Linked DNA regions of Homo sapiens: region 1 is linked to region 2. Evidence: fine-mapped expression QTL. A gene starts in region 2. The other region holds a variant in brackets. All regions are shown on one strand. Distances are between the middles of the regions.

What was found. PIP is the estimated chance that this variant, and not a neighbour inherited with it, causes the effect.
Region 1: its variant is fine-mapped to the expression of RAB13 in whole blood (TOPMed, PIP above 0.99). The same link has a PIP of 0.9 or more in monocytes.

The regions. Positions count from the first base shown.
Region 1 is chr1:153,875,504-153,883,503 of GRCh38, forward strand. The region is part of intron 1 of GATAD2B (GATA zinc finger domain containing 2B); the gene reads right to left. Among named protein-coding and RNA genes, the nearest start is that of GATAD2B, 43 kb to the right of the region's middle. RefSeq lists a silencer at 5,530-5,824. The variant A/G (reference allele first, on the strand shown) is at 4,763.
Region 2 is chr1:153,980,101-153,991,589 of GRCh38, forward strand. It overlaps RAB13 (RAB13, member RAS oncogene family), which reads right to left and starts at 6,239. Exons shown (of 8, transcript NM_002870.5): 1 at 6,013-6,239; 2 at 4,621-4,681; 3 at 3,421-3,481; 4 at 3,119-3,196; 5 at 2,619-2,708; 6 at 2,435-2,500; 7 at 2,291-2,344; 8 at 1,550-2,076. The coding sequence starts at 6,136. The coding sequence ends at 1,999. It overlaps RPS27 (ribosomal protein S27), which reads left to right and starts at 10,662. Exons shown (of 4, transcript NM_001030.6): 1 at 10,662-10,702; 2 at 11,015-11,123; 3 at 11,466-11,489. The coding sequence starts at 10,697. RefSeq lists enhancers at 5,298-5,527, 5,841-6,342, 10,387-11,489, 10,543-10,902, 10,600-11,489 and a silencer at 6,154-6,323.

The DNA.
Region 1 (8,000 bases), 110 kb before region 2:
TGTAAAGGACCAGATAATAACATTTTAGACTTTGTGGGGCAAGTACTAAACTCTGCTTTTGTAAGCAAGTGGGTGTGGCTGTGTTTCAACAAAATTTCATTTACCAAAACAAGCAGCAGCTATAGTTTGCTGACTCCTGATCTTGATACAGGTCAATAGACCTACCACGAGTTTGGAGGGAAAAAAAAAAAAAAAAAAAAAAGGTAGCCACAAGCTGGCTAAAATAAACTAGTAAGAACAATGAAAATAGTATAAACAAACCCAACAGACAGGAATATCTATCTTGCTAACATTCACTGAGCTCTTACTATGTGCTAGGCATTGCGCTAAAGTGCTTCACAATGCATTATCTCATTTAGAACCTCTGGAGATATAATTATCCTCCTGTTAGAGAGAAAAGAAAAACAGATAAACTGAGTAACTTCATACGATTTCACAGTCCAGGCCAGGCACAGTGGCTCATGCCTGTAATCCCAGCACTTTGAGAGGCCAAAGCAGGCGGATCATGAGGTCAGGAGTTCCAGATCAGCGTGGCCAATATGGTGAAACCCCGCCTCTACTAAAAAATACAAAAATTAGCTGGGTGTGGTGGCGCATGCCTGTAGTCCCAGCTACTCAGTAGGCTGAGGCAGGAGAATCGCTTGAACCCGGGAGGCGGAGACTGCAGTGAGCTGAGATCGCGCCACTACACTCCAGCCTGGGCAACACAGTGAGACTTCGTCTCAAAAAAAAAAAAAAAAAAAAAAAAAAAAAAAAAGATTTCACAGTCCTTAAATGGCTGGGCGTGGTTAAAACACAGGACTGTCTTACCTGAGTCAATGTCCTTAACCATCGTACTATGCTATCTATATTGTCATTTTTGGTTTCCGATCCAACCAGACTGGTAAGAGAGTAATTCTTATGAAAGACTATTACTGTTTACATGCTCTTACAGTGTCTTTTCTGTATCACTGAGTTTACTACACAAACCTTTGGCTCACATTCTTGAAAGAAAGAGCCTAGATGACCTTGCAGTGGGTAACATACTGCTCAGTAATATGCACCAAGGATTGTAAAGGTCGCTATGCTTAAATGTGACAAGTTAGAGTGTGCTGCCTAGAGGTAATGAACAGGAGGTAAACAGCTTTCTCCTACTGTCACCTTACAAATCAGCACAGAAGTTCTGACATACACGAAAGCAAATGTGCCAGACAATCATTTAGAAAAGGTGATATGAGAGGTCAGGGCGGTGGCTCATGCCTATAATCCCAATACTTTGGGAGGCCAAGGCGGGCAGATCACCTGAGGACAGGAGTTTGAGACCAGCCTGGCCAACATGGTGAAACCCCGTCTCTACTAAAAATACAAAAATTAGCTGGGCATGGTGGCAGGCGCCTGTAATTTCAGCTACTCGGGAGGCTGAGGCAGGAGAATCACTCGAACCTGGTGAGGGGAGGGCGGCGGGTGGAGGTTACAGTGAGCCAAGATCGTGCCACTTCACTCCAGCCTGGGTGAAAGGCGAGACTCCGCCTCAAAAAAGAAAAGAAGAACAGGCAGTATTAGAGTGAAAGGTTCTTTGCATTGGCCCATGCCTATAATCCCAGCACTTTGGGGGGCTAAGGCAGAAGGACTGCTTAAGGCCAGGAGTTTGAGACCAGCCTGGGAAAAACAGTGAGCCTCTGTCTCTACCAAAAATAATAATAATGAAATTAGCCAGGCATGGTGACATGCCTATAGTCAGTCCTAGCTACTTGGGAGGCTGGGGCAAAAGGATCACTTGAGCCCAGGAGTTCAAGGCTGCAGTGTGCTATGATCACACTACTGCACTCCAGCCTGGGCAACAGAGTGAGACCCTGTCTCTAATAAATAAATAGAATTAAAGGGACAGACGTGGCCAAAGGGCAGATTTCACATACACTTCAAAATTACTCTTCAGCCACTCCAAAACAGCAATTAAGGCCTATGAGAGTTAAGAAAAAAAAAAAAATTTCTCATCTATCCTTTAAGAGAAGGTACTGGTTTATGCCTTGCTGATTATGACTACATAATCACTAAGATTATCCTCACTAATCTGGCTCCTAACATCAAGAGAAAAGGTAAAAATAAAGGATATAGCTGGACATGGTGGCTCATGCCTGTAATCCCAGCACTTTGGGAGGCTGAGGTGGGGCAACTGCTTGAGCTCAAGAGTTCCAGACCAGCCTGACCAACATGGTGAAACCTCGTCTCTACTAAAAATACGAAAATTAGCCGGGTGTGGTGGCACATGCTTATAATCCCAGCTACCTGGGAGGCTGAGGTGGGAGGATCACTTGAATCCAGGAGGCAGAGGCTGCAGTGAGCTGAGATCATGCCACTGCACTCCAGCCTGGGCAACAGAGTGAGACTCCATCTCAAAAAAACTTAAAAAAAAAAAAAAAAAAGGGTAATTATTACTTCTAAGAACTAGGTAATCCCACAACAACAATGAATGAATCTTTACCTAGCCTCTAGGTTGTAGCAAGTTTGGTCTGTTGCTATTTTGTCTTTCAGTACTCAACAGACTAGGAAATAATACTCCTTAGTTTACTTATAAAGGGACTTAGAAAAGTAGGCTCCAGCTCCTTGGGGTGGGGAAATAATTGCAGGCAGCCTGGGGAATAAGCAGAACAACCATTGTGGTAGGTCCCATCCTGCAATCTTTTTTTTTTTTTCTTTTTTTTTTGAGACAGGGTCTCACTTTGTTTTCCAGGCTAGAGTGCAGTGGTGCAATCATGGCTCACTGCAGCCTCCCACCCCAGCCTCCCGAGTAGCTAGGACCACAGGCACATGCCACGACTAATTTTTTGTAAAGATGGAATCTCCCTATGTTGCCCAGGCTGGTCTCAAACTCCTGAGCTCAAGCAATTCTGCGATGGTCTCCCAAGGTGCTGGGATTACGGCTGTGAGCCACTGTGACCAGCTCATCCTACAATCCTTAAAGAAAGTAATAACCTCATATTCACTTCCTAACAAAAGGAAAAAAAGCACAGATATTAACACCAAAAAATACAGACGTTCAAAGACTATTGCTTGTAAAGATGTGGCAAGAAGAGAAATTTACAGGCTTTAACAAAAATATACAAGTTCCCAATCAAATTAAGGAATTTCCTCTAGACTGCAACCTGATAAAAACTCTTACTACAGGATTAACGAGTTTGAAAGTTCCCTCTCATTCCCAACTCTCCCCATCAGTGCTGTTATTCTGAATGGTCAGAAGCAAAAATAAACTCACATAAAACCAACTGTAACAGTGTGACCCATACTTTATTCCTTTTTTTTTTTTTTTTTTTTTGAGACAGAGTATTGCTGTGTCGCCCAGGCTGGAGTGCAGTGGTGCAATCTAGGCTCACTGCAACCTCCACCTCCCAGGTTCAAGAAATTCTTCTGCCTCAGGCTCCCGAGTAGTTGGGATTACAGGTGCCCACCACCATGCCTGGCTAATTTTTTTTTTTCTTGAGACAGTCTTGCTCTGTCGCCCAGGCTGAAAGTGCAGTGGTACGATCTTGGCTCACTGCAACCTCCGCCTCCCGGGTTCAAGCGATTCTCCTGCCTCAGCCTCCCGAGTAGCTGGGACTACAGGCGCAAGCCACCACGCCCGGCTAATTTTTTGTATTTTCAGTAAAGACAGGGTTTCACTGTCTTAGCCAGGATCGTCTCTTATCTCCTGACCTCGTGATCCGCCCGCCTCAGCCTCCCAAAGTGCTGGGATTACAGGCATGAGCCACCACACCTGGCCAATTTTTTTATTTTTAGTAGAGATAGGGTTTCACCTTGTTGGCCAGGCTGATCTCAAACTCCTGACCTCATGTGATCCACCCACCTCGGCCTCCCAAAGTGCTGGGATTACAGGCATGAGCCACCGCTCTCGGCCCCATACTTTATTCTTTAATATACTTTCTCATTTTCACCTAACACAAAAGCTGCTTCATAAATATCACACCTAGGAGGCACATAAAGAGAATTTAAGAAAAGACATCAGGCCGGGTGCAGTGGCTCACGCCTGTAATCCCAGAACTATGGGAAGTCAAGACGGGCGGATTATGAGGTCAAGAGATCGAGACCATCCTGGCCAACATGGTAAAAACCCCGTCTCTACTAAAAATACAAAAATTAGCTGGGCATGGTGGCGCAGGCCTGTAGTCCCAACTACTCAGGAGGCTGAGGCAGGAGAATCGCTTGAACCCAGGAGTCGGAGGTTGCAGCGAGCCAACAATGCGCCACTGCACTCCAGCCTGGCAACAGAGCGAGACACTGTCTACAAAAAAAAAAAAAAAAAAAAAGACATCATACTAAACTGAGCAGAATTATAATTTCTAAATGAATGCTGATCCCCTAATTGCCAATGAAAGACACAATCACTACAACTGAACCCCAAAATTGTAACACTTGCAATGCATGGACACTTAGAACAATCTCTAATTTTTCCTTCCTTCCATGTGCTGTTTGACTGTCCTTTTGTACAATTCTAACTCTGGCAGATGGCAGGGAAAGAATACCGCATTTTGATAATATCATACTAAACAGAAAAGAAGAAATAAAAAAGAAGGGGGAGTCTCGAATGAGTAGTTAATAGATATTACTTGCTCTATTATCTGGCTTTTTGCTTCTCCTTAAGAACAACCCCTCTCCCCCACCCACCCCTGTACCCTTGGCAATTCTGAATGATTAGAAACAGTCGGCCAAGCGCAGTGGCTCACGCCTGTAATTCCAGCACCGTGGGGGCCGAGGCAGGTGGATGACTTGAGGTCAGGAGATCGAGACC[A/G]GCCTGACCAACATGGTGAAACCCTGTCTCTACTAAAAAAAAATTACAAAAATTAGCCGGGTGTGGTGGTGGGCACCTGTAATCTCAGCTTCTCGGGAGGCAGAGGCACAAAAATCACTTGAACCTGGGAGGCAGGGGTTGCAATGAGCAAAGATCACACCACTGCACTCCAGCCTGGGCTACCAAGTGAGACTGTCAAAAACAAAAACAAAAACAAAAAACAAAAAAGCCACACAATGTGGCCTGTCCCCTGCCTCCTTGCTCCTCACCCCTAAGTATCTTAACAAACTACAGCTGTAAAATCCAGGAGGCATTTCTCTTTTAATCATTCTTTTCTCAAGCACATACACCTTTGAATGGGAACAGAAAGAAGAGACCCACCAGCCTGGACAACACAGGAAGACCAAATTTCAATAAAAAATACAAAAATTAGCCAGGTGTGGTGGTACACGCCTGCAGTCCCAGCTACTCAAGAGGCTGAGTTGGGAGGATAGCTTGAACCCAGGAGGTCAAGGTTGCAGTGAGCCGTGATCACATCACTGCACTCCAGCTTGGGTGACAGAGACCCTGTCTCAAAAAAATAAAAAAATAAAAAAGGAGATCCAGGACAGTTACTACTTCTACTAGGAACATGGTCAATAACACTTGCACACAGAAGCTCTCTCGTTTTGCCACAACACAAATACCTTTTTCTTTCTAAGACAGCAAGGAAAAAAGTGTATGTGTGGATGTGTCAAAAGGGTATTTTTCTTGCTCTAAGCCTCCCCCCTCCCTCTCCTTGTCCATCAGCCCAAGCAAGCAGAGATGACGCAGACTTCCTTATATAATGGCCTGTGATTTCCTAGACTGCAGGCCTTTCCCTTTGTGTTCTGTATACACTTACACACACGAGCGCGCGCACATTCTCATTGCTTTGCAGCCCCTGGCATGATGCCAACACTCAGTCAGCTGGTTGACTCCATTCACAGAGCAGGGTTGGAGCTGACATGGAAAAGGGGAGGGGTAGAGAGGGTAAGGGGGAGGCTAGAACCATCACTGCTACAGACAAAAGAAATTTTAAAAAGGGGAGGAAGGAGAAAGAGAAAACCTTAATAAAACACTCTCCTTATTGCTTCAGCTTGAAGACAACTAGAAGCCAGAGACCCTTACCATTATAGCAAATGGATGAAGCAGAGGGAAAGAAGATCCAAACCGAAAGGAGCTTTGTATGAGAAACAATAATTCTGCAACAAATTTTTTTAAAGCAACAGTGTTTATTACTTCAATCCCATTAGAAACCTCAGCATATTACCTTCTACACATAGCCAAAAACTACTAGAAAGAACTCAGAAGAGATTTCGAGTTTCTGCTTTTAGCAAAGAAAAATAAGGATTGGGGAGGGCAAGACAGTTAAAACTACTTAGAGGTATACATTTTTCCGTTCCTTCCTCTAGCTTCCAGAAAAGTGAGAGAGATAAGAAATAGAGAAAGAGAACAGAAAAAGGAGGAAAATAATGAGATGGGTTTAGGTTTTTTTCGTGTGTGTGTGTGTGTGTGGAGGGTCGTGTGTGTGTGGAGGGTCCCCTTTCTTTCTCTGTTCTATCGTCTCTTTTCTACCGTAAGAGAAGCTCTTTCTGTAGCACAGAGGTGGCCCCCATGCGTGCCAGCCCCCTTGAGAGCCCTGCACAAACCCGGTCTCCAAGCGGGCACTGCCCTGCCAATCACATGGTGTACTGTTATATTAAACAAAAGAAACAGGGGGATGCTTACTTTTACCCATGATGCCTAGCGGGGACAGGAGGGAGGGAGAGAAAAACCAGTTGTAGCCGGTTTATAACCTCAGGACATGGAATTATCTCTTAATTTTTAAAAGTCATTTGTGGTACAAAAAAGTCTGTTAGTCTCCCCACCCTAACTATCCCCCCATCATTGCAGCCTAGTGCCAAACTTTGTCTTCATGAATGAGAGCTAGTTTCCTCTCAAATCATGATGCTTTAACTGTTTAGTTTCCAAAGCCAACATCCAAGATAGGAAATCACAGCATCAATACCAAAGCACACCCCAAATTATAACAAAATGAAGACATACTGCCCACCAAACTTCTTTTCTTTATCCCTATTGCTAGTGCTAGGGAACAGGTACTAATAAGACAGCAGGTGTATTCACTAATTTTTCTTTTTTCCTGAAGCTGTCCCACAGATAGGACATCTGATTTAACCCGATCCATTGACACCGTTCAGGGCAGCTGAATCCGCACCTAACACAAAGCATAGCAAGGTTTCACAGCAAAGTAGTCAAGACAGTACCCATGCATTCTTTAAAAACAGCTTAGGCCTTTGTTATGTATATTTTACTGCAATTTAAAAATTTTTTAATGCTTTAAGCCCAGCCATAGTATGATTGCAATATTATTCCACTTTCCTGTGTCATAGCTAGAACACTTTACTCTTTGCATTCTAGCACCTCCTCACCTACCACATCCCACTTACCACACACACATCCCTATGTCATTCTATAGACAAATCCAGATGCTAGACATACCTAAGCCTGGTCTCTGATTAACTTTCCCTTTCCTGTTTTAGAGCAACTTGTTCCAATCATTTTATAAGGACTTTTCACTTCCCCAAAGTGCTGATATGGGGTCAGAAAATAGTGGGGAAGAAATCTAAGTAAACCAAAGAGGAAGAAGGGCAATGGTAATTGTTTTCTTGGAGATCTATTGGCTGAGGACCTTTGCTCTAGGATCTTTCTCTATCTGATCAACTAGTTATAAATTGTAACAAGGAATAACAAGGGGGGAGGGATTTTCTTACTTTTCAACTGATATCTCCCATGAATATGTCATTCCAAATGCTTGCCTCATTTGGACCTCTGAAATTCACATCATAATTACTGCCTCCATCAGAGTCTCTCACAAAGCCCTTGTTCTCAAATATTAAAGTTTCTAGCAAACATGGAGAAAAATAATCTTCACCCTACGCAAAAATATTATTTCTAAATAAAAGTTTTCCTGAGCCATATAATATTAACTTCAATTTTCAGAAAACTAACACCGAGCTAAATCAAAACTAAGTAGTACTGGCCACTGGCATAAGAAATTCAACAATTTACAAACTACAAAGGAAAACCCTTTATCTACAACACAACATGAGCTTCAAGTGGTTGATACCGTACTATCTCAGTCACAATAAGGTCCTCTTAATAGGAGACCATCAGAGGTATCCAGATCTAGACACTGCTATCATTTTACAACATAAAG
Region 2 (11,489 bases):
CTCAGCCTCCCAAGTAGCTGGTATTACAGGCACCCACCACCATGCCCAGCTAATTTTTTTTGTATTTTTAGTAGAGATGGGGTTTCGCCATGTTGGCCAGGCTGGTCTCAAACTCCCAACCTGAAGTGATCCACCCACCTCGGCCTCCCAAAGTGCTGGGACTACAGGCATGAAACAACGTGCTCGGCCCAAGCCTGAATTTTCTTTTGCATTTCCAGTAGTTTTGCCATCTTTGTTATTCAGCAAAGAGATGTTTTTGTTTTCGTTTTTGTTTTTTTGAGACAGAGTCTGGCTGTGTCACCCAGGCTGGAGTGCAGTGGTGTGATCTCAACTCACTGCAACCTCTGCCTCCCAGGTTCAAGTGAGTCTCCTGCCTCAGCCTCCCAAGTAGCTGGGACTACAGGCGCCCTCCACCACTCCTGTCTAATTTTTTTTTTTTTTTGTATTTTTAGTAGAGACGGGGTTTCACTATGCTGGCCAGGCTGGTCTTGAACTCCTGTTGTGATCCACCACGCCCAGCCAAAGAGCTGTTTTTGTTAAAGTTTGCTTGTCCCAGGCTGGGCGCAGTGGCTCACGCCTGTAACCCCAGCACTTTGGGAGACTGAGGCAGACTGATCACTCGAGCCCAGGCGTTCAAGACCAGCCTGGCCAACATGACAAAACCCTGTCTCCACTAAAAACACAAAAGTTAGCCAGGTGTGGTGGCACGTGCCTGTAATCCCAGCTACTCGGGAGGCTGAGGCAGGAGAATCGCTTGAACCCGGGAGGCAGAGGTTGCAGTGAGCTGGGATCGTGCCACTGCACTCCAGTCTGGGCGACAGAGCCACACTCGGTCTTAAAAAAGAAAAAAAGTCCTTGTCCCTCTGCTTGTAAGTACCACCAAAGGGCTATATTAACTGACTATTGGCCAGGCATGGTGGCTCACGCCTGTAATCCCAGCTACTTGAGAGGCTGAGGCAGGAGGCAGAGGTTGCAGTGAGCTGAGATCGCACTATTGCACTCCAGCCTCGGAGACAGAGCAAGACTCTGTCCCTAAAAATAAATGAATAAATAAATAAAATAACTGACCATTGTGCCTGGCACTTAGTAGATGCTCAATATACATATATGAATAAATGAACTTCTCATTTTCCTCACTAATAAAAGCAGATATTAATGCCTATCAAATAACTAAATGGATTGCTGGCAGAATCAAAGAAGCTTGCACAAATCACTGGATAAATCACTAGGTGCAGTTATTTCCCTGAGGCTAGGACTGTTAGAGTTCTTCTCGCTGGGAATTTCCTGTGCTCAGGACAAGGCTCTGCCCACAAGGGCATCCGGACCCCATGGCGGAAAGAGGATATCCAGACCTTCAGATCACTCTACCTCCTGCTCTTTGCTATTTTCCTTACCAACAGAACAGCTAGGGAAGAGACAGCAGTAGGATTAGTCCTGGTTCCACAGAAACCGAGCCTGATTTGGGTAAATCAATCACTTTGAAGACACAATAATTGGATTTGAGTGGAGAACAATTCTGACAATAATCCAAGTTACCCAAAACAGGAACATTTGTGCAAATGGTGGCCTTTAATACCAAGAAAGACCATGACAAGTGACAGAACAGGAGCAAATTCCCTAGTGTAGTGCCGAGCTAGCCTTTTGCAGGACCCTAAAACCTGATCTAGTAACAGAATAAATCAGTGTATTTACATTTATGTTTGCCCTGAAAACCCAGGTAAGGTCTGAAGCCTGAGGCATCTCTCCTTCCTTTCCTCCTCCCTCTCTTCCTACCTCCTTGCCTTCTTTCACTTCCTCAATTCATTCCTCTCCCTTCTCCCTTCCTCTCTCTTCCTTTTTTTCCTTTCTGCTTTTCCCTTTTCTCCTTTTTCTCCTCATTCTCTTTACCATCTACCTATGTGACCCTCCAAGCCCCTCTGCTATTTCTCCCCTGCTCACTCCCTCTGCCGTTGTCTCCCTCAGGTTCAGCTTCCGGGGTGGGGAGGCAAGAAAGGGTCCTCAGCCCAGGGAGCACTTGTTGGTGTTCTTCTTGTCACAAGTTTTCAGGTCAGTACTGGGAGGCTTGTTGCCGTTTCCCTAGAGGGAGAAGGGCACAGGTGTCATGGTGTGAATGGATGGTTAGGGTAGGAGGGTATAAACTGTTTAAAGTAAATCCACCCTCATGAGAAATCTTAGCATTGCTCCCCGTTTTTATCAACACCAACACACACACACACACACACACACACACACACATACATACACACACACACACCCCAGAGTTGTACCTAGTCCAGCAAAACCAACTTACTGATCTCCGGCCTCCTGACTTGAGCAAGATGTCCCGGGCCAGGGAACTAAAAGCCTAAAGTGGGGAACAGAGTCAGTTTGGAGGGAGGAGAATCTACCTTCTAATACTTCCTCTCTTGGTCGGGGATGGGGGTGTGGATCTCACCTCATCCACATTCATACTGGATTTAGCACTAGTTTCGAAAAATCGGATTCCATGCTCTCGAGCCAACTATAAGGGGTGAAGTGGGAAGAGAATTGAATTAAGGACAGCAGCCAAGTCCTCTGCAATGCAACCTATCTTGGCCCTCCCAGCCCAGTTCTAGAACATTGCTCAGCCTGGCCCTCACCTTATCGGCCTGCTCCTTCTGCACCTTCCTCTTGGCCTCCATGTCACATTTGTTCCCCAGCAAGAGGCGCTCCACCCCAGCCGAGGCATTCTGGGGGCAAAAGACAAGTAAAAGTTAGGTCCTGCCGGCTGGGAGCGGTGGCTCACGCCTGTAATCCCAGCACTTTGGGAGGCCAAGGCGGGTGGATCACCTGATGCAGGAGTTCAAGATCAGCCTGACCAACATGGAGAAAACCCGTCTCTACTAAAAATGCAAAATTAGCCGAGCATGGTGGTGCATGCCTGTAATCCCAGCTACTTGGGAGGCTGAGGCAGGAAAATCGTTTGAACCTGGGAGGCAGAGGTTGCAGTGAGCCGAGATCCTGCCATTGCACTCCAGCCCGGGCAACAAGAGCAAAACTTCATCTCAAAAAAAAAAAAGTTAGGTCTTGCCTATCCTGATGGACCCCTTCATTCTCCAGGTTCTAACCAGTTTCCCCATCTCTTTTGGAGGGTCCTCACCTCCTTGATGCTTTTCATCCAGTTCTGAATATTCTCGAAAGATTTCTCATCCGTGATGTCGTATACTAGGATAATGCCCTGGGAGATGACAAAATTCACCTTGGACCATGTTCCCATTGAGGCTTCCCACTGCCCTGTAAGTGACCCCGCATCCATGGGTCTAAACACTAGGCCATGTTGGGCCCTCTGCAACCCACACTGCACCCCTCCCATTTTTACCTGCCCCAACCCCTGACCCTTTGTATTCATAATATATTCTGTAGCCTCATCCTTCATCCTTTGTTCAGACCCACACTTCATACCATGGCTCCACGGTAGTAGGCAGTAGTTATTGTCTTGAACCGCTCTTGGCCAGCCGTGTCCCTAAAGAAGGAGAAGTTTTCATGGGATGGAATAGAGGGAAGAATTCTCCAACGGAATAATTCTTCCTCTCTCACAAGAATTTAGCTTTTGTAACATGGTGGGGCAACAGAATAAGGAAACAGTAAAGGGGAACGGGATTAAAGACAGTTGAGCTGATTTCCAGAGATGGTAGTGGCCCAAGAAACAAGATGTCTTTGCTTATTCATTGAATGTTTGCTATGTGTCAAGCACTGTGTATGTATCATTTTATCTAATCCTTACTCTTTCCTTGTAAGACATGTATTATTGTCTCTATTTTAAAAATGAGGAAACACGCCAGGTGCCGTGGCTTGCGTCTATAATCCCAACACTTTGGGAGGCTGAGGCGGGTGGATCACCTGAGGTCAGGAGTTCAAGACCAGCCTGGCCAACATGGTGAAACCTCGTCTCTACTAAAAATACAAAAATTAGCCCGGCCTAGTGGCGGGCGCCTGTAATCCCAGCTACTTGGGAGGCTGAGGTCGGAGAATCACTTGAACCCAGGAGGCGGAGGTTAAAGTGAGCCTAGATTGTGCCATTGCACTCCAGCCTGGGTGACAAGAGCAAAACTCTGTCTCAAAAAAAAAAAAAAAAAAAAAAGAGGAAACAGATTTGGATAGGCTGAATAATTAATGAAGGTCAGGCAGGAGATAACTAAAAGAACCAGATTTGCGCACCAGTCTGCTCTTATATGTCATAGCATAATGCCTCCACTAAGCTTCATACCACTTAAACACCTTCAGGGTCTATATTTGGCTCTCTGGGCTCACCATATTTTGGAGAAAACACTAGACTTAGAGTCAAGTCTTAATTCTGCCTTTGCCATTTAACTGCTCACAGCCTGTTTCCATGTTATGACTGAACAGTTGTTTGTTGTCAAATTAAGAGGATGCTCTGCAGCCAGAGGAGGCAAGAGTTACAAAAGAGTTGGAACTAGTTGGGAGAGCAGGAAGAGAGATGGAAGGACAGCTGAGTGCATCCGGAGAAATGCCAGAAGTGCTCCTTCTAGCACTTCTAGAAGGAGCAATGGGGAAAGGAAGAGAAATGAAACAAAATAGAAGGAAAAACGTGTAGGAGGTAAATGGGGAAGTCTGGCGAGGCATCCCAGAGGACTGACTTACCAGACTTGTAGTTTGATCTTCTTCCCCTCTATATCCACAGTGCGGATCTTGAAATCAATTCCTAGGGGTGGAAGGTATGCACTGAAGTTGAGACATGCATGCACACATGTAAAACTGTGTGATGGAAGGGACAGGAACGGAGCAGTGCTGGCACCAGAAATTCTGCAGGGGAGGCACTTGGGGAACAATCTTGTTGGAAATGCCAAGCTAGGAGAATTTTCCCAAAGCTGTATTTGTATAGCAAGAATACTATTTTTACGTACATTTTATGGATTTTGGGAGGGAAAAGGTGACGAAAATTCTGCATGGAGGCTTAAAATCCTTAGGCTGCCTCTTGGGTCCATTCAGTTATACCAGCTGACAACTCTCTGAATTCAGTCTCTGTCTCCCCCCAGATATTACTTTCACATTCCTCTTCTCTGTTTTCTTAGAGCCCTCTACTCTTGGTATCCCACCTACCCTCCTAGTAGAGAGTAAGGAAAAAAGTAGCTGAAGCCAGTCTATGTGAATTAACTAGTGGGCCAAACTTGGCACTAGGAAAGTCTGAGGCTAAACAGGATTACTTTTGAGACAATTAGGAAAGAGGGGCATTTTTCCTTTTCCTTTGTAACCAGAATTGTCGTGAGACTCTTCCTGTCTATTTCCCAAGCCAGAGGAGATGAAGAAAGAAGAGAAGGGAGGAGGGGAGACAATGTTCTTCTTAGTAGAAACTTGGGCACCTCCCCCAAGCCTGCTGGGGGCCCCTGGGAGGAGGATGAGTCACCAGGCTGACTCAGAGACCCCAAAAGTCCCCTCATTTCCACGTTCCTCACCAAGCTGGCTGCATATTCATGATCACAGTCCTTGGGCCACCCTCCAGCACACCCAGCCACCTTGTTCCACCCTTCCCAAACCCTTGTTCAGCTGAGGTGCAGGGAGACTGGGGCAGGGAACCTGGGAAGTAGATGGTGAGGTGGGGACACAGTGGGAGAGTTTGAAGCTCAGCAAGACAGAAAGAGGCTAGCATCGGATCGGGAGAAAAAGATGTGGCGGACAGGGATACAGGAAACATGGAGATAGGATCGAGAGAGTTCTAGGTGGTGGGGGTAGGGGAAGAGGGGAACAGAGAAAAATAGAGAAGAGTTCTTGTGGATTTGGGGAGACTAAGGCGATGGTACCAAGAAAATGAGGAGCTGGCAGCAGTTGAAGAGTTACCTGAAGGCCTCAGAGAGGTGAGAGGTTTGGTTACTATACAGAGACATGCACGGGGGAAGGGTCAGAGCCAGGGGTTGAGGGACTAGAATTTAGGAGCCTTACTCTAAGGGGACTGAAAAGTGGGGTCACTAGTAATCCGGGAGCCGGAGAAGGAGGTCACAGGAGAGTCGGGGTCTGGGACATGGCCAGCGGGCTCACCGATGGTGGAGATGTAAGTGTTGTTGAAGTTGTCCTCTGCAAAGCGAATGATCAGACAAGTCTTGCCCACCCCCGAGTCCCCGATCAGCAGCAACTTGAAGAGGTGGTCGTAGGCTTTGGCCATGGCGGACACCGGGGGAGCCGGGGGAGGGGTGGGGAGCGCCCGGCACTGGTAGGCGGGACTGGACGGTTGGCAAACAGAGCGGCACGGAGCCCAGGCCAGGAAGAAGTTTTCCTCCCTCTCCGCCCAGGCTCCGGGAAAGAGGAGAGGCGGCACCCCTCCGGGCTCCACCCCCTGCCCGCCCACCCTTTTGAGCAGGCCAAGGCTGCCAGCCCGGCCTCTGTTCTCTCGGTTTTCCCTTCCTAGCTTAGGCCGGCCTGTCTCTCTCGCTATTTTCCACAGCCTTTCGGTAATTGTAGCTCCCCTCTTAGGACCTTACTCTTCCATTCTGAGGCCAGAGAGGCTGGGGTGAAGGGAAGTAGAGGTTTAACCACGACGACCAGAAATTTTAGAAGAGAAATTTTAGAGGGATTAGGGGAAGAGAACCAAGAGTTTTGGGAATAAGGGTGAAGGTAGGGAGAGCACTAGAAATTGAAAAAAAAAAATGGGGCTGAGTTTTGGAGATGCTATTCAACGAAGCTAGAAGATGAGTTATCATCGGTTTCTGGGGCTGAGTAAAAGGCAGTCCTAGAATTTTACTGTTAGTTGTCCAAGCCCTTAGTTCTATGGGTCCCAATTCACTTTGAAAAAAGCGGGATGCGCAGAAGTAGGTTATTTGTTGAGTCAGTCTGCCCCCTGGTGGAACAGGGTGAAAACGTAAATTAGTTATACAGAATCGGCCCCACCACCCCAACACACACAGCCTACCTAGACACATCCTGGGGCTTCAGTTGGAACGATCTCTCTTATGGGGACCCATGTGTGATTTCTCTGACCAAATAGCTTAGGAAAACAGAGATTTGAACTAAAAATGTCATTCTTTACGTGAATCTTTTAATATGGCCCACTTAAGGTGCAGTACTCCTGAAATCTCACTCAATAGGCCATGAATGTGTAGCCTTGGTAACCAGGAAGCTGAAATATGAACAGCACGGGTATAAAGAAACAAGTTTGCCGGGCGCGGTGGCTCACGCCTGTAATCCCAGCACTTTGGGAGGCCGAGGCGGGCGGATCACGAGGTCAGGAGATCGAGACCATCCTGGCTAACATGGTGAAACCCCATCTCTACTAAAAATACACACACACACACAAAATTAGCCGGGCGTGGTGGCAGGCGACTGTAGTCCTAGCCACTTGGGAGGCTGAGGCAGGAGAATGGCGTGAACCCGGGAGGCAGAGCTTGCAGTGAGCCGAGATTGCGCCACTGCACTCCAGCTTGGGCGACAGAGCCAGACTCCGTCTCAAAAAAAAAAAAAAAAGAAAGAAAGAAAGAGAGTAAAAGAGAAACAAGTTTATCTCTGCCTTTAGAAAAAAATTATTCTTGCTATATGTGTGCTGGGGGTGGAAAAAAATACGAAACACGAAAGAAAGAAAATATTATCTAAGACCTGTTGCGGTGGCTCACACTTGTAATCCCAGCACTTTGGGAGGCCAACGTGAGAGGATCCCTTAAGCCCAGGAGTTCAAGACCAGCTTGGGCAACATAGTGAGACTGCTTCGACAAAAAAAAAAAAAAAAAAAAAAAAAAATTAGCCATACATGGTGGTGTGGCCTGTAGTCCCAGCCGCAGCTACTTGGGGGACAGAAGTGGGCAGAACACTTGAGCCCAAGAGTCCAAGGCTGTAGTGAGCCACGATTATGATGCCACTGCTCTCCAGCCTCGGTGATAGAGTAAGATCCTGTTTCAAAAAAATTTTTTATTTATTTTTTAATTAATTAATTAATTTTTTTGAGACAGAGTCTTGCTCTGTCGCCAGGCTGGAGTGCAGTGGCGCAATCTCGGCTCACTGCAACCTCCGCCTCCCGAATTCAAGCGATTCTTGTGCCTCAGCCTCTGGAGTACCTGTAATCCTCTGGGATTACAGGTGCCCGACACCACGCCCAGCTAATTTTTGTATTTTTAGTAGAGATGGGGTTTCACCATGTTGGCCAGATGGTCTCGATCTCTTGACCTTCTGATCCGCCCGCCTCGGCCTCCCAAAGTGCTGGGATTACAGTCGTGAGCCACCACGCCTGGCCCTATTTTTTTTTTTTTTTTGAGACGGAGTCTTGCTCTGTCGACCTAGGCTGGGGTGCAGTGGCGCGATCTCGGTTCACTGCAAGCTCCGCCTCCTGGGTTCACGCCATTCTCCCGCCTCAGCCTCCTGAGTAGCTGGGACTACAGGCGCCCGCCACCACCCGGCTAATTTTTTGTATTTTAGGGAGAGACGGGGTTTCACCGTGTTAGCCAGGATGGTTTTGATCTCCTGACCTCGTGATCTGCCCGCCTTGGCCTCCCAAAGTGCTGGGTTTACAGGCGTAAGCCACCGCGCCCGGCCTATTTTTATTTTTATTTTTTTAATTTTTATTGTTTATTTTGAGGTGGAGTTTCGCTCTTGTTGCGTAGGCTGGGGTGCAATGGTGTGATCTGGGCTAACCGCAGCTTCCGCCTCCCTGGTTCAAGCGATTCTCCTGCCTCAGCCTCGCGAGTAGCTGAAATTACAGACACCCGCACTACCCCCTGCTAATTTTGTATTTTTAGTAGAGACGAGCTTTCTCCATGTTGGTCAGGCTGCTCTCGAACTCCCGACCTCAGGTGATCCACCCACCTCTGCCTCCCAAAGGCCTGGGATTACAGGCGTGAGCCACTGCGCCCAACCTTTGTTTTTACTTTTATTTTATTTTTTGAGACAAAGTTTTGCTCGTCACCCAGGCAGAAGTGCAATGGCTCAATCTCTGGTCACTGCAACCTCCGCCTCTTGGGTTCAAGCGATTCTCCAGCCTCAGCTTCCCGAGTAGCTGGGATTACAGGCGCCTGCCACGACGCCCAGCTAAATTTTTTTTTTTTTTTTTTTTTTTTAGTCGAGACGGGGTTTCACCATGTTGGCCACGCTGGTCTCGAACTCCCGACGTCACGTGATCCGCCCGCCTCAGCCTCCCAAAGTGCTGGGATTACAGGCCTGAGCCACCGCGACCGGCAAAGAAAAAATTATTATTATTATTATTATTATTATTTGAGACGGAGTCTCGCTCTGTCGCCCAGGCTGCAGTGCAGCGGCGCGATCTCCGCTCACTGCAAGCTCCGCCTCCCGGGTTCACGCCATTCTCCTGTCTCAGCCTCCCGAGTAGCTGGGACTACAGGCGCCCGCCACCGCGCCCGGCTAATTTTTTGTATTTTTAGTAGAGGCGGGGTTTCACCGTGCTAGCCAGGATGGTCTCGATCTCCTAACCTCGTGATCCACCCGCCTCGGCCTCCCAAAGTGCTGGGATTACAGGCGTGAGCCACGGCGCCCGGGCAAGAAAAAATTATTCAAGGGAGTCTCTCTCGAGCCTATTCTGGCTGCCTATAAAAAATTAAAGGCCGGACGCGGTGTCTCACGCCTGTATTCTCAGCACTTTGGGAGACCGAGGCAGGTGGATCACGTGAGGTCGGGAGTTCAATACCAGCTTGGCCAACATGGTGAAACCCCGTCTCTACTAAAAATACAAAATTAGCCGGGCATGGTGCCGCATGCCTGTAATCCCAGCTACTCGGGAGGCTGAGGCAGGAGAATCGCTTGAACGCGGGAGGCGGAGGTTGTGGTGAGCCGAGATGGCGCCATCACACTACAGCCTGGGCAACAAGAGCAAAACTGTGTCTAAAAAAAAAATAAAAATAAAAATAAAAAAAAAGAAGGCATCTTTCACTTATCCCCATCACCTTCCGTGTCCATGCTTGTCCCTTCTCAAGCTAAACTATTCAATCTCTTTTTGTCCATTCTCTCACCTCTCATTATCTCCTTGAGTCTTCCCTATTTCTTTTCACTGACCAAACCATGTCTCCCCTGTTTATTTATTTATTTAAGACAGAGTCTTGTTCTGTCACCCAGGCTGGAGTGGATCTCGGCTCACTGTACTTCCGCCTCCCAGGTTCATGCGATTCTCCTGCCTCAGCCTCCAGAGTAGCTGGGATTACAGGCACACGCCACCACGCCTGGCTAATTTTCGTATTTTTAGTAGAGACGGGGTTTCACTATGTTGGCCAGGCTGGTCTTGAACTGCTGACCTCAGGTGATCCACCCGCCTTGGCCTCCCTAAGTGCTGGGATTACAGGCATGAGCCACTGCGCCCGGCCTAAACTGTTAAATTAAACCAATAGAAAAAGAGTTAAGAATATAGGTATTTAAAAAATAGGACGGAAGTCCTGGATATGGCTCCTTCTCCCTGGTGTTTTCCTCAACCTTTCCTATTTATTAGGCTCCAACTGTCAAGGTATGGCACAAAATTTTAAAAGTGTCCATTTATCCCTGGATAGTGATCAAACGCTGACCTCAAATTAGCAAGGTAACCCTCTCAACATGGTGACGCATATGTGTCACAACTAACAGTTAAAGACCTTCCGAAAATGGCAGCTCCCTTGTCTCCCCACTGCGGCGGATCAAAGTAAGACGTTCCAAACATGGTGGCACAAGATCCTTGCGTCATTTCCTGTAGTGTGCTCTATATAAGGGGCAGGATTTCCGCTTTCGCTCCTTTCCGGCGGTGACGACCTACGCACACGAGAACATGCCTGTGAGTGCTTTGGTCCAGGTTTCGGCGGAGATCTCGCTGTTCTGTCCGAACTCTCCCCTCACGCTGATTTCGGATCGTAGAGGGTCCTCATTTACCCTCTGCACTTCTTAGGACATTAACTCCAGGGACCGCAGCGGCCCACGGGCCACCCGCATAGACGGGAGCGGAGAGGAGATAAGATGGCGGCCCAGCTGCGCAGACACCAGGGGCGGCGAGGGGCGAGCTCTCCCCGGTGTGTGACAGTGGGGGCTATTTTCGACCATCCCATTTTCGCTGTTGGTTTCTAAATCTCTGCATTTCTGTCCCTCTTAGCTCGCAAAGGATCTCCTTCATCCCTCTCCAGAAGAGGAGAAGAGGAAACACAAGAAGAAACGCCTGGTGCAGAGCCCCAATTCCTACTTCATGGATGTGAAATGCCCAGGTGAGGAGACGGCTTGCTGTAGTGGGGAAAGCACTGGACCTCAACAGTTGGAAAATGTTGTAGTGTTAGCTGTCTCGTATCCTTGAAGCTGTGCAGCAGCTTCAGTTTCTTCGCCTGTGGAAAATATTTTCCCTGATACTCTTAAAATTTGAATGTATGAGACTGGCAAAGTTTTGCATCTTAGGAGGAGTGATTCATTTCACCGTGATCTCTCATCACATTTCACATACAACCCCTACGTTTTTTTGTGTTGGGAAACAATGTAATGGATGATGAGTTGGGCATAAGTGCAGGAAAGACGGGTGTAATAGAGGAAAAAAATGTTATCTGCTTTTCTTTCAGGATGCTATAAAATCACCACGGTCT